Homo sapiens: one gene and its partner. The protein of the gene in region 2 interacts with the protein of the main gene of each other region in a pairwise test. Each region holds a gene or a part of one and is shown on either strand. Other genes may lie near its edges.

Evidence for each region.
Region 1: the proteins of FOXG1 (region 2) and KDM5B interact in a two-hybrid assay, tested with the Homo sapiens proteins (one study listed by BioGRID).

What each region holds. Positions count from the first base shown.
Region 1 is NC_000001.11:202,728,401-202,735,678, forward strand, and holds part of KDM5B (lysine-specific demethylase 5B), read right to left. Parts: intron 7,188-7,278; coding exon 7,029-7,187; intron 5,487-7,028; coding exon 5,001-5,486; intron 3,540-5,000; coding exon 3,428-3,539; intron 2,664-3,427; coding exon 2,509-2,663; intron 1,628-2,508; coding exon 1,307-1,627; intron 774-1,306; coding exon 636-773; 3' UTR 1-635. UniProt on the Homo sapiens protein: Histone demethylase that demethylates 'Lys-4' of histone H3, thereby playing a central role in histone code. Does not demethylate histone H3 'Lys-9' or H3 'Lys-27'. Demethylates trimethylated, dimethylated and monomethylated H3 'Lys-4'.
Region 2 is NC_000014.9:28,762,740-28,769,827, reverse strand, and holds the start of FOXG1 (forkhead box protein G1), read right to left. Parts: upstream 3,042-7,088; 5' UTR 2,549-3,041; coding exon 1,079-2,548; 3' UTR 1-1,078. UniProt on the Homo sapiens protein: Transcription repression factor which plays an important role in the establishment of the regional subdivision of the developing brain and in the development of the telencephalon.

The DNA of each region.
Region 1 (7,278 bases), on a different chromosome or scaffold from region 2:
CGCTAAAGCACCAACACACTGTTTGGAAGTTTGTTTTGTTTTGTTTTAATTCCAGCCACTGAAACCAACATAGAAGTTATTGCTCAGATAAATAAACCTAGTCTACCAGGAAGAAGAAAAGTGGATAAAGGAAAAGAAGAAACAAACAAAAACTCCCAAAGTGAAAAACTTAAAAATTTCCCCAATGTGGTAACAGAGTAAACAAGGGAGAGCTTCCTCAAATGAGGATTTACTGGAATTTCTGGTGGGTGCCCTTTTGGGCACTGGAAGTGAGTTGGACTCTTAAGCTGGTAAATCCCAGAGAGAGGTAAAATTTTAATGCTGTACATGAAAAGGTGCAAGCTTCAATGCCTTCCAAATTGGTGGGAACCCCTGCAAAAAAAACAGTCAGCTTTTCAAACCTCAACAACCACAAATAGCTCTTAAGGAAAAAATACAAAAAGTGTCAAAAATTTTTTTAGTTGTTTTTTCTTTTCTTCAAAGAGTCCTGGAAAAATGATCCCATAAGGAATAGAAATAGCACCGTTTACAGGCTGGCTTGAGTACCAGTCCTGTAGCTTTGCTGAGATTTGAAGAAATCCTCTTGGTTGGAGTCCTGAATTACATTAAGTAGGGGGGTATCTGTTTTTGTGTTTTTACTTTCGGCTTGGTGCGTCCTTCACAGTACAGCGCACACAGATGTAGTCTTCTTTCTCTGCCATCTCTGGGGAGACACCAACACAGACCTGATGAAACCACTGATTGCAGCTGCCATCACACTGGACCCAGTCCACCTGGTTACAAAGAGCAGGAAGATGGGGTTTTCAGAGGAAAAAATGGATTCAAAATTGGGCAGGCCAGCCTCAAGAAATTCAGGCCGTTTGCCAATAACAGCCACTGTCCCACCACTGGGACCTCTGGCACAACAGCTAAGCCAAATGAGTGTAGCTGGCCCCCTAGCCAAAGCAACCGAGTCAAAGTCATTCTTCAAGTCGTGTCTGCTTTGGGGTTAAGACAGCGCTGCCCTGTGATAAGTAAGCCAAAGGGCATCACATCAGCATCCCTCCCACCTTCTTAGCGCCGGGAAGGTGAAAGCTGGAAGAGCAAGAAAAGGAAAAAGGGAAGAACAAGAGTTTCTTCAAGAAAAGGGAGGAGACCCAGGAACGATGGTAAGAGCACAGATATCAGTGGGGGAAGGGCTGAGCAATCCATTCAGATCAGCTCAAAGCAGATAAGCAGAGGAGAAAGACCCAGCGAGATGAGGTCTAGCTTACAGGGTTTCTGAGTTAAGGGAAAGCACGTCCTCTATGGCCCAAACCTCACTGACCTCATCTCCTTCTGGCTGCAGGCAGCTCACAGCTGGGCAGATGGCATCTTCATCCTCAGAGTCTTCCTGTTCGGAATAGGATGTGTCTGAGGGCAGGGAATGAGTTTCAGCAGAACGAACTAATTCATAGCTACGCTCTCTCTCTAACTTGAAATTGTTCATGTCCTTGGGGTGGCTCAGTTTGATTTTCTTCTTTTTGGGGGTCCGCATTTTCTTAACTCGTTCCCACCGCTCACTGGAGAGGCCCTCTCTTTCCAGGCGTCTCTTCAGTTTTCTCTCAAGACTGTTAATTCCATCTCGCTTCCCTCGGCAACAGTCATTCTGGGTGGAAGATAGGAAAGTTCAATTTTCGCCTATGGGTCACCTATTACTAAAACTAATGAAGCTAAAGAGAACATGTAAATTAGAAATCAGATGATCCCCCAATCTACACGGGAAAAAAATACTGCATCTTAACCACTCCCCTCCCAGTCTTGTATAAGACAACCAGTTTGGGTTTAACATACTTCCTTCCCCTATCACTGTTAATGCTACCAAAGGATCACTGGAAAAAGGAATGTTAAAGACGTGATTACCCTTCCAATTAACCAACCAATACCAGAAGATGGAGAGGTGCCCACTAAGAGTCTTCCTTTCACCAAATCCCTGAATGACTAACTACTATAATAGTTTCTGTCTAGGTGTTTATGTCTATCCTGTGACCTACAGGCTCCTGAGGAACCACACTAATAATCTTCCTTCTTGAAGGATGTACACCCCCACACCTTATAGGTGTAAGGCGCATTAACTGAACACATTCAATGATTGTGCCATACTACTTGGTATGGCAAATGAAATTTGCCATGAAAAATGAAATTCTAAATGCCAACATCAGCCCTCATGCTATCTTTAGTGAAGTTCTTCCCTAATTTGGCTTCAGGCTTCCTAGTAGATTTCTATCCTAACTATATTCTCAGGGGCCTTAAATGTGATGGGTCAGTTAGTTCACTAGAAGGAAGTGGCAGCAGCCGCAGTATCCTTAACTATGTTAAGAAACAGGACATTAAGGAGTATCCTTCAACTAAGTCAGCATTCAAAATGGGTCATCCTCAGTCTAATCGCCCAGTCCTCACACCAGCTGTCTGGTTATGTTTCGAGGAGTAAAATAAAGCATACCCCCACCCCAGACTGTGCCTTGCCCCAGAAGCCTCTCAGACACTCACCTTCTCACTGCTGGGTCTCACTGGTGAGCTTCGGTCAGTCTGCTGAGCAGGGCTTGGCTTTGCAAGTAAAGTCTGGTAAAGTTCCTGAATTTCAGGAAGGGATACCTGGAGCAGCTGGGCTTCCATCAATAGTTCATTCACTTCTGGACTAACACCTGTAAAAGACCAGACCAAATCAAAATGATAACAACAAAGGGTGTTTCACATTCACATTTGGGTTTATGAGACAAATAGAAGGACTGCCCCTAATACCACTACTACCCTCTCCTTCTTAAATTACAAATTACCTTCAGTTGAAGTGAGGTTTAATGTGCCTAAAGCCACAATATAATAAACAGAGCCAAAACTAGATTTCCTAAGTCTTCTGATTACTAGTATTAATTATACACTGAATCCTCTTCTCATTTACCTTATTGCTAATGCAGAAGAGATTGTACTTCTGCCTTGATGACTTCTAACAGAAAGCACAGAAACAGACTGATGGCCACAGTGTCAACAGTCTGAGTAGATCAAGGAGCTCTAACCACATTACTAGACATACACTGAGATGCTATGACTAAGGATCAGGACTCTAGCAAATGTGGATTATCCCTAAGATTCTCCACAAGTCTCCTAAGTAATGAAGCAACAAGAGAGCCCATGACTTAGCATCTGACTTAAAAGCTTGGTGTTTATCAGCTGGTGTGGCATGAACCCTTTCATCCCTGAGGACAATGGATATAAAGTCTTCCTCTCTGTTCCTTTGCATTTATAAGCCTTCAAATAGGATCCCTTCCCTATTTTGCAAATACATAATAGCCTATATCCTACATTTCAGCATAAAGTCCTTTTTATGGTACTTGATCATCTATAATAAAAACCTAGTAATACAAGATCACTCATTACTATCCAGCCCTCAACGTAATAACAAAATACAAACCATGGAGGGGGATACAACTTCGTCCAGTTGAGAAGGGGGAGTGCAAATATGAGGTTCTGTTGTCCCAGTCATCAGGCAAAGAAAATGATGTTGTGCCAGGAGGTTGAGATACCTAATGGAGGGAAAACGTTTTATAATAAAATCTCTTCAGGATTAAAAATACTCCCATTAGTCCAATGACAGTAGCTTGCATTACCCAGGCAGGCAACCAGGGGAAAAAAAAAAAAAAACAACTTGATTTTCCCCTACTGAAGAGTCTCCTGGCATTTCAGAACTGGCCAAATCAACTCATATCTTCCCAAAGACCAAGCCTTTAATCTTTCCAGTTTTACTTGGACTGATTTCAGAGATGTAAAGAAGGCCACTGGGAAATAAGCCACTTTCTCAGTGTGAGAACAGATCATACAGCCTTTTAATCCTTTTCTAATTCTCCTTATTGAAGATTAAAATACGATGAACACATATGTACCCCTTTGAGTAAATCAAATGAGGACCTGTCAGAAATCATCCATAACCACTTTCCTATCTTCCTTAGTGTTTTATTAAAGGAGCTAGGGGAAACACTCCTTTGACCATGAATTAATATAAGAGTTGTGTCCTTTCCCTTTACTAAGAAAGGTAAACTCCTAGCACATCCTGGGTAAAGAACACCAATGACTCCACTTTGGGAGTGTGCACAAATGCCACAACTCATCTATGCAACAAATATTTAATTCATCATCTATGTGTCAGGCACTGTATTTCAGAAGCCTGCAAAGAAATAAAAAACCAAGGAAACAAATATGACAGACTGTTTTTTTTTTTGTTTGGTCTTCATCTTATCAACAATTTAACTCATATAATCCATGTGTCTGTGCTCATATGGCACAAGAGAGTTGTGGTATCTCTGGTACAGAGATGTTTACCAACTTTAAAAACCATCAGATTAACCTCATAAAGATTGAATACTGTCTTCCTGATTGTACTTTTCTATTGTCTTCACATTCTTTTACTGCAGCCACCTATGGAAGATAACAGAAAACTCTGCCCATCCAGTGATGTCAAAAGAATCCAGCTTTTGGCAGAAAGATCGCAAATGGTGTGTAACCCAGGAGCTTTCCTCTGAAATAACACAGTGCTCAAACACTTCTTCCAAAAAATATTTTCCCTTAAAGGGCAAAAAGCGATAAAAGGCAGGAAGTGTTTTCCCTTTCTACTAATTGACTTACATGAGAAGAAGCAGGGTAAAAAACTTTTTAGTCAAGCAAAGACTTAAAGATACATCATATACGTATATGTAAAATATAAATGGGTCAGCATACATATAAATGAAAAAATTATTTGTATCTGTGAAAAGCTAAATATGTGCTCTATAGAAAGAGTGCCTGGGAAACAACTTCTAATAGGAGCAGAGGAAATTAAAAGAATATGTTATACCTGCATGGTCTTGAAGTGGGAAGCTACAGGTAAAGTGGGTGCTGTTAACAGTAAAGTGATCACACCAAGGGAATAGCAACACCAAAGCTACAGGTTCGAGAGAAAGGTACAGAGCTTTGCAAATTCCAATAACCCAACAAGGAAAGTCCAGATTCACCTTGTTTGTGTCTGACACCTGTCCTGCTGAGGCTTGCCATCTGCTATATAACAGTCCTGAGCCCACTCGATCTTGCACAAATTTAAGATTCCCTGACGAAAGCAGTTGCTGGGCTCTGTGCTGCCAGTTCACGGTTCTTTCAATCATATATCGAAGTGCATCTCCCTCAGGAAGGCGAACTCGGATACGCTGAAGGGAGGCGAGCAGGGGCAGAATTTTCTCTAATGGAGGTTTCTCTGACCTCCGACAATGGGGACAAAGCCAGATTCGCAGGCCCTGTGAAATACTGGGTACCGCCACACAACTGGTGTGGAAAGCATCCCTGCAGAGTTCACATTGAATCATAGGGGCAGCTGGGGCCTTCTGACATAGGCAGATTTTTATATCCACATCTTGGAGAGGCGACAGCAATTTCCCTTCATTGGCGAGTCTGAGAGACTGCAAGGCTTCCATTTCCCTTAGGCGAGCTTCCCCAAGAGTTGCCATCTGAAAAAGAGTTAACAATCAAGGATGATGTCCGAGATGGCTTGGCCTTCCCCTAAAACTCAGAGTCCTAGTGGTTAAGAGCATGGGATCCTGAGTAGATCATCTGTATTCAAATCCTGACTGCCTCATACTAAGCTGTGAGTGACCTGGTGCCATGTATTCCATTGTGGCTAAATTTCTGCATGTGTAAAATGGAGGTGATAATAGTGCCCACCTTACAGGGTGAGATGACAAGTAAGAGATGTGGGATAGGACACTCTTTGCCTGGCACATAGTAAACAAGTTCTCAAAAAATCTGTCACAGTTAAAAAACCATTTCCAATCACCACATCTATCCCCTTTCAGATCCATCACGATTCACCAGATGAAGCACCCTTACAAGGCCAGAATAAACTCTCCATTATCTCTATTAAAAAAAAAAAAAAAAAGCCTAAAAGCAAATCAGGTAAAGACCTTTGGGTATATTAAAAAAAAAAAAAAATCCACTTCTTTTGTAAATATAATACACAGGTAATATGTGTGGGTTATATGATAACAAGGTAACTTCTGACAGCTTAGAGATGGAAAGCAAATGACTAACCTTTGAGTTCTACCATAAATTAACAGATAATACGTAGGGAGAATTCTTAAAACCAGGGGTCTACAGACAGATGGACAGACTAAAATCTACAAAAGATACTGCATATAAAGTTTCAAACCAACATATATACACCTCAGGAGAGGGGGACTGTAACTTTCAGTTAGTCTTTATAAAAACAAACCACAGATGGAATGGAGGACCTCTGATGGCAGAATTCTGTCTAGAACCTGACTGAATATACGAATATACACTAAGAACATCTGTGTCAAAATACCTAAATAAATCAAGGCAACCCATGTCTATCACAAGAGGTCTGGCAGCTACAAAGAAATCAATGGGAGAAGGTGTCCAGATCCACAGATGAACCCATTCAATCTAGTCCCAGTAGCAGGTATACATTCCCACTCTAGAACGGGCAATGCTTTGTGCCATTAAAAGCATCACATAGCTATCCCTTTTTTATCCCGATAAGGTGCTTAATGTGTAACATTAGTTATACATTGCCTCATCTTCTTTAAACTATCATCTTTGAATCAACAGTATTTACTAAATGCAGGTCAGAGATGTAAGGTATTCCAGATGAGTATCAAAGTATCCAGTAAACTTTTAAATGTACTTCTTAACTATAAACTAATAAATTAGCATTGCATTTTCATACATCTATTAATATTAGTCTCAATATCTTTAGTTAGCATTCCTGGATCAACCCACAGGCACTAAACAAGACTGTTTCTGTGCCTGCAAGACCCTGAGACTGGGAAGCCTACCCTGAATCTTTCCCACCTCTATGCATCTTACCATTCAAAACTCTTAACACTTGACAATTTTCAAAAAGTCTTTTTAGTAAAACTGAACGCTTTCAAGTTACTCTACTTGCCTTCTCCAAATTCCTATAAAACAGAAAGGGTTAGAAATTATTCTTCCCAATAACATAGAAAGGAGAAGAAAAAAACCCTACATACAGCTGAAGCAGTCTCCTTGCTTTCAGTTAAAGCTCTCTCCAGGTCACTCAGACTCTCTAATTTGGTGCTTTTTTTCTTTCCATTTGGCAAGGGCTCCTTTAACTTTCTCTGCTTCCTTTTCAATCCCAAAAGGCCAATATCACATCGAGGACACAGCACCTAATGTGGGACAAGGCACAACCAATGGTAAAATAAATTTCAGATAAAGCATTATGTAGGAAGTCCCAAAATAAAAGCCTAAGCAGTAAAA
Region 2 (7,088 bases):
ACAAAGGGAAAAATACTATTTTCATTTTTAGAGTCAGTTCAAATTAAAGGAGCAGTTTAAATTTTAGTTTGGCTGAAAAAGCCTTTGAATTCCCTATAAGTTGATTGGTCTTTAAAAAATTAGCTCTACTTAATAAAAGAGACAAAAGTATCAAGATATATATGAATTTAGCCTATTTTTTATTTCTGTGTGTTCATAGTAAACATTTTTGTAAGTGACAAACACGGGCATATGACCACAGTATCACAATCAAGAAATTTTAAGACAACATTAACAATCACTCAAATTTATGCGGCATTTGCGCAACACAGGTTACATATTTGCAAGGTTTACCTATAAGTACAATAGGTATTAACATTTCACTACATTTAGAAAAAATAAAAGTGACCTGTTAGTGACCACATACATCAAAATATACACAACACAAACTGAAGGCAATCGTTAATTTTGTCCCCTTCTGATTCAATTGAATGGGCAGTGTTGCCAACTGAAACAACTTTCCTTTTTGTTTGTTTTAATACTTAGTATACCAAGTGCATTTTCTAGAACCCAATCTTTGGTCTAAAAGTAAACAAAAGAAAAAAAAACAGTTCTTTAAAGAAAAGGACAAAACAATAAATGGCCAAAATAATTTCTTGGGCACCTTTACTACGAATGCTTTTTAAATACAAATTACAGTTTAACATTTTAAAATTCTCCCCATAATTTAGGTTGTTCTCAAGGTCTGCGTCCACCATATAGTTCCATGATAACTTATAATACTGCACACATGGAAATCTGGCGGCTCTTAGAGATAGACTTGTCAGGTTTGAATGAAATGGCAAAGCAGTCACTATTTAGATACACATTCTACTATAATTTGACTTCCAAACCTTATATTCTACAATGTATTCTCCCCACATTGCACCTCGCTGACACTCCACACCTTGTTAGAATAATAAACAACCCTAGAGACTGAACAAACGTACAGAAATGGGAGGGGGGGGCTTAATAAAAAATACCTGGACTTATTTTTTTAATTATCATTTACAATGCAAATGTGTGTAAAACGTTCACTTACAGTCTGGTCCCAGGGATGTTAATGTATTAAAGGGTTGGAAGAAGACCCCTGATTTTGATGTGTGAAATAATCAGACAGTCCCCCAGACAGTCCCGTCGTAAAACTTGGCAAAGAGGGTCTTAAAGACTCACAGGGCAGGGTCGAGGGGGCCTGCGGCGACGTGGAGGAGGACGCGGCCCTGGCGCTCATGGACGTGCTGCTCTGCGAAGTCATTGACGGGTGCGGGACGTGGGGGAAAAAGTAACTGGTCTGGCCCGCGAGCAGGTTGACGGAGCAGGGGTTGAGGGAGTAGGTCCCAGAGCAGGGCACCGACAGGCCGCAGGGCACCGAGGCGGCTAGCGCGGCGGCCGTGAGGTGGTGCGTGGCGTACGGGATCTCCCCGTTGACCAGCCGGTCCACGCTCAGGCCGTTGGCGGTGGAGAAGGAGTGGTTGTTGCCCAGCGAGTTCTGAGTCAACACGGAGCTGTAGGGCATGGGGTGGCTGGGGTAGGCCGACGTGGTGCCGTTGTAACTCAAAGTGCTGCTGGCGCGGGGGTGGTGCAGGGACAGGAAGGGCGACATGGGCCAGTAGAGGGAGCCGGCGCGGTCCATGAAGGTGAGGCCGGTGGAGGTGAGGCGCGCACCGCGCTTGAAGGCCAGCTTGGCCCGCGAGGTGGTGGAGCGGCGCCGCAGCTTGCCCGTGGTGCCGCCGATGAACACGTCGTCGCTCGACGGGTCCAGCATCCAGTAGTTGCCCTTGCCCGGGTCGTCGTAGTGGCGCGGCACCTTCACGAAGCACTTGTTGAGGGACAGATTGTGGCGGATGGAGTTCTGCCAGCCCTGCTTGTTCTCGCGGTAGTAAGGGAAGTTCTTCATGATGAACTCGTAGATGCCGTTGAGCGTGAGCCGCTTCTCGGGGCTCTGCCGGATGGCCATCATGATGAGCGCGTTGTAGCTGAACGGCGGCTTCTCGTACTTGCCGTTCTTCTTCTCGCCCTCCTTGCCCCCCTCCCCGTCCTTGCCGCCCTCGCCCGCCCCCTTCTTCTCCTCCCCCCCGGCGCCGGCGCCCTTCTCCTTCTCGTCCGGCCCGACGGGCGCCAGCTCCCCCGGCCCGCCGCCCGGCTCGCCCTTGCCGCCCAGCCCGTCCGCTTTAGCCCCGTCCAGGGCGGCGGCCGGTGGTGGCGGTGGCGGCGGCGGGAGCAGCAGCTGCTGGGGGCCCTTGTCGTCGTCGGCGGCCGGGGCGCCCCGCGTCTGGGGGGGCTGCGGTGCCGGGGGCGGCGGCGGCGGCGGCTGCTGCTGCTGCGGCGGCGGCGGCGGTTGCGGGGCGGGCGGCGGCGGGTGGTGGTGATGGTGGTGGTGGTGGTGGTGGTGCTGGGGGTGGTGGCTGTTGTGGTGGCCGTGGCTCGCGTGGTGGTTGTCGTTCTGGACCGCCTCGGGCACCAGGCTGTTGATGCTGAACGAGGACTTGGGGATCATTTTCACCTCTTTCCTATCTCCCATGTCCAGCATCACCCAGTCGTCGGGGGGAAACGGCGGCGGCGGCGCGGGAGCGGGACAGCGGCGCGGCGGGCGGCGGCGACCGGTGGGTGCCGAACGGGGCGCGGGGGGCGCGGGCGGCAGCGGCGGCACTGAGCGCTCCGGCAGCAGCGCAGTTGGACCGCAGGCTCGGGCGCTGGCAAGTCATGTAGCAAAAGCAGCAACCACCCCTCAGGAATTAGAAAAAAAAAAAAAAAGGAAAAGAAAAAAGAAAGAAAGAAAAAAGAAACAACCACCGCCCCGGGGGTGAAGCTCCCTCGCTCCCAACTGTACTTCTTGGTCTCCCCCCCCACCCCCCGCTCCCCCCCCCGCTGCTTCCTCCTCCTCCTCCTCCTCTCGCAGCAGCAGTCACAGCAGCAGCAGCAGCAGCCCAAAGGGGGGGAGAGCCGGGCGGCGGGCGGGCGCGTCCCGGAGCGGCCGCGGCGAGGCTGGGGAGACAGCGATCGAGGCGGCTATAGCCACAATTAATTTTCCGAGCTACAGGCGCACACTAGGGCTGTAAAAAAATTTTTGGTTTAACCTTTCCTACCGCTGGGCCAATCAGAGCTGGCGGCGTGCGGGAGCGTCTCTCTCGCCGTCGACCAATCGGAGGGGCCGGGCCCACCCACCCCCGCCCCGCCCGCCGGCTGCCGCCCCCTCGGGCGCTCGCCTCCCCCTCTCCGCGGGCCTCGGACCCCGAGGCCGCGCGGAGCCGCGTAGGGATACGCCGGCGGGAGCACGCGGTGCCGCAGCCCTTCCCTGCGCCCCCGCCACCCCCTCCACCCCGCCGGCTCCGCTCCACCGAAATTCCCCTCCTAGGGCCAATAGCTCACATTTCCGGCTTCCTCCTCATTGTACTGGGTCATTTTCGTTTAAGCGTCAATATTTGTCCTTAGTGATTAAAGTTTGTATCCAATTTTATTTTTGAAAGCGGGGGTGGTGGTGGTAGTGGGAAGAGTGGGAGTGCAGGGAGAGGATGCGAGAGGGCAGGAAATGGAGGAGGTAGAGGCGAGGCACTACTTTTCCGAGTCGGCCTTGCAGGCCAGTGTCTGGCATTTCTGAGCCAGCAGGAAAATTGTGCCCTTTGTAGGTAATAGTCTAGCGCAGCTTTGGATAAGGGGGGAGATAAGGCCCACCGCTGGCGTGTGTGCGGGGGTGTCCTTTACTTCGGGGGAGGAGGGTGTGGGAGAGCTTTGGGAGCGATGAGATGAGGAGGAGGAAGTGGGCAGAGGAGCGCGGGGCCAAACAGGGGTTACTTACTCGATTCCTGAGGCCTGGGCGGCGGCGAGCTCCGGGCTCCGGCACCGCGGGGAAACCGGGACTGGGGCTCCGGGTGCTGCTGCGGCGGCCGGGGCCGCTCAGTAGTGGGCGCCTCTGATGGCCTTCCGAAATGAGAGGTGCCCAGAGAGAAAACAGTACCAAACAATCTCGAAATAAATCAGGTAACACATGCTATATACGTGTGTCTCTTCCTTTTCCTTCTCTCCTGCTCCAGAGCGTCGCTCACGCGCGGGGTGACTCGATGTCGTTTTCTCCTCGCCGCTCCAGCCTCAGCTTCTAATCCGAATTGGAAGCGGGTAGCTGCGAGCGATCACCCTGGAAATATTTTCGTTTTGCTTGTTGACATTGGAGGGAAAATAAGGGTGGGCGTCTATTTCTTTCCGGTTTTTTTTTTAAGCCTTCCTATTTTCACTCCTTTTTTTTCCTTTCCGTTTCTCAAATGCTTTTATTTTGTGCGGGCCTCATTCCTGAAATAACAGTATACTGAAGCCAGCTCTTGCCAACCCTGAGTGCTGCTGGAAAGCACCGGGGAGCCTTGGGAACGTGGATCTCACAGTCCCAGCTTCTTGGGCTTTGGAACTGGGAAGGTTCGGTTGGAGGTTGAAGTGAATGGGGAAATTGCGAATCGGGGGCTTTAAAAGGATCCCGTGGCCAGGGGCAGGGCTAAGGCCCAGCATTTCCCAGGGATTGGAATTTAGTGGGGAGCACATTGATCAAAGGCTGTTTCATCCCACATGGGCACGAAACATACCACATTTTACGGAGGATGTAGCCCCAGAGAAGAGGGAGGTGGAGAAGCATAAATGAAAGGCACCTTTTCCTTCCTCTAGAAGGTAAATAATTATAAAATGTAAGCATTTCTTCACTTGGATAAACTTTCATTAAGATATCTGGCAGATTTGGTATTTAAGAAAACGAAGGAAGGAAAATTGGTGCTTATGCTTGATCCTAAAGTTAAATTGTAACATAAAGAATGCGGTTGATGAATACTCAGGATAATAGGGGGTTATTCCATCCTCCCCACCCCCAGTCTTAAGAAAGAGAAAGAGAGAAAAGGTTGGGGGGGGGGGAGGAAACTGGAGAGAATAATAGATAATTACAAATAGCTAGTGAATTTTAAATATGCATCTATTAGGAATGCCACAAAGGAGCTTTGAATATTGGACTAACCTCAAATGTCCTTCCACTGTATGTATGTATCTTTACCTATGTCTACATATCTTCTCACTTTAAAACAAACTGTATTTACATGTGGAAAAATTCAAGGGTTCCAACAATCAGTGTTGATAGTGACATGGTCCCAAACATTTATTTCCAAGCTCTGGATTTCTCGCAGGGCCGGGTGAGCTAATGGGCTTTGCCTACCGGCTGGAGAGATTTGTGGGCCTTCCCCTTCCTACTCACTTTTCCTCCTCCCACTCTTCTCCCCTCTTCAGGCCCGTTCTTCCTACTTTTCCTCAACTCTCCTTCCTCCCTCCTCCCTCCTTCTCCCTTAGCTCCCCCCGCCCCTTCCCCCCACCCTCCATTCCTCTGTCTCTCCATTCCTCCACCTACTCCTCCCAATTTCTCCTCTTACAGCCCCCCTTCTCACCACCACTTATAATGGCACACAGGGCTCCCTCTGAGGTGGACGGCCCGGTACGTTTTCGTAGTCGGTCTAGCGTGAAATGATTCGGTGTAACCGGATTCTTGGGAAAGGACAGGTTACGTAAACATTTACTGATGTGGAGTAACTATACTATTTGTACTCTGATATGCAGGAAGGAAAGTGTTGATTAACACAGAAGAAAAAAAAAACGAAATTAGCTGATTGCATGCTCATAAGTGCAAGCTGTCATTGAACTGCTTTTAAAATAGACACAGCTGGGTGTTTGTGTTGAAAAATTTCTTGTGTTTTTGCTAATACTGAAATAAGCATGATTTTGTATACCAAACATTTTCAGATCATTAAAATTTGTAATCTGTGCTGGTTTTAAACACAAAGAAAAGAAACAGAATCATTTCGATGTAAAATTTGCTGATATTATATTAACTCAATCAGGTCTGTACAAATTGTGCATTGTGCCTCCTAAAATCTGTTTGATCAATTTAATACACAAAGTGCCAAACGTGGGTATTGTTTGTTAACATTGGACATTTTATTCAAATCCGAGCTCAGCAGCAAACTGGAGGAGCTTTCCTTCAATACAACACCAGCTCTGACTGATGAATTTTTAATGTTTTAAGGTGTTTCTTAGGTCAAATCTGAGCGTGCATTGTTTTGTAATCCTGTATAAAATTTTAGCAGGTGGAAATAAGTTTTTCTTCTGTTTACTTTCAAATAGCAAAAACTGGGGTTTGCTAATGAGCACTGTAATAATCTGATTTTATATGCTAGGAGCTCATATTGACTGGGAAAATGTTTTTCATTCAAATTAAGGCTATGTTATATAGTTTAAGGATTGCATGAATGCAAGTCTCTCAAAATAGGATATTCTTATGGGCATAAATAGTATATAGTTTAATGTAATATTTAAAAATCTATTCTTCCTAATGACAAAAGTTATTTGTAATCTGGCAAGAAGTGAGTTTTAATTCCTTTTAATAATTTCAATTGCACTTTATGTCGAGATGGTGATATATATATATACTCACACACATATATATGTGTGTGTGTGTATATATGTATATATATATAGCTTGTTCAACAAAACATGCACTGTTTACTCAGCACCCCGTGTTTGTCTCAGCAATAGCTTTTTTAAAGAACTGCTACTATTTGAAATGGAGGGGGAGGGGGGTCCTGGACAGAGTATTGTGCAAGTTGAAAGTCTCTGGATGGGGCTTTGTATATCCTACCAGCCAATTTGGGTGCAAATTGGATTTGAAGGCCTGCCTCTGTCCACCTCGGGCCTCTTCCCTAAGCACTGGAAGCCCAATCTTCAGCCCCACTCAGTCACCGTGATTACCTTCAGAAGACAGAGGGAATTCAGTTGTCTCAGACCTGAAACAAATTCTCTATCATTCTAATTTTTTTCTCATGATGGATCTAACCTTGATCTCTCACACAGACATCTACAAATGTGTACTATTAATGAATAAAAGCAGAAGTCAAAGTAAATGTAATTTTCTGGTATATATCACAGTAAACTTCTCTCTTGCTCTGTCTGCAGTCCCCCAGCTCTCCCAAAGAGGTCAGGCCCCGTAAAGAGTGAGCAGTTCCAATGGAAGAATTGGTTAGGAAATGAATTAGATTATTCCTTCTGGAGTTTTA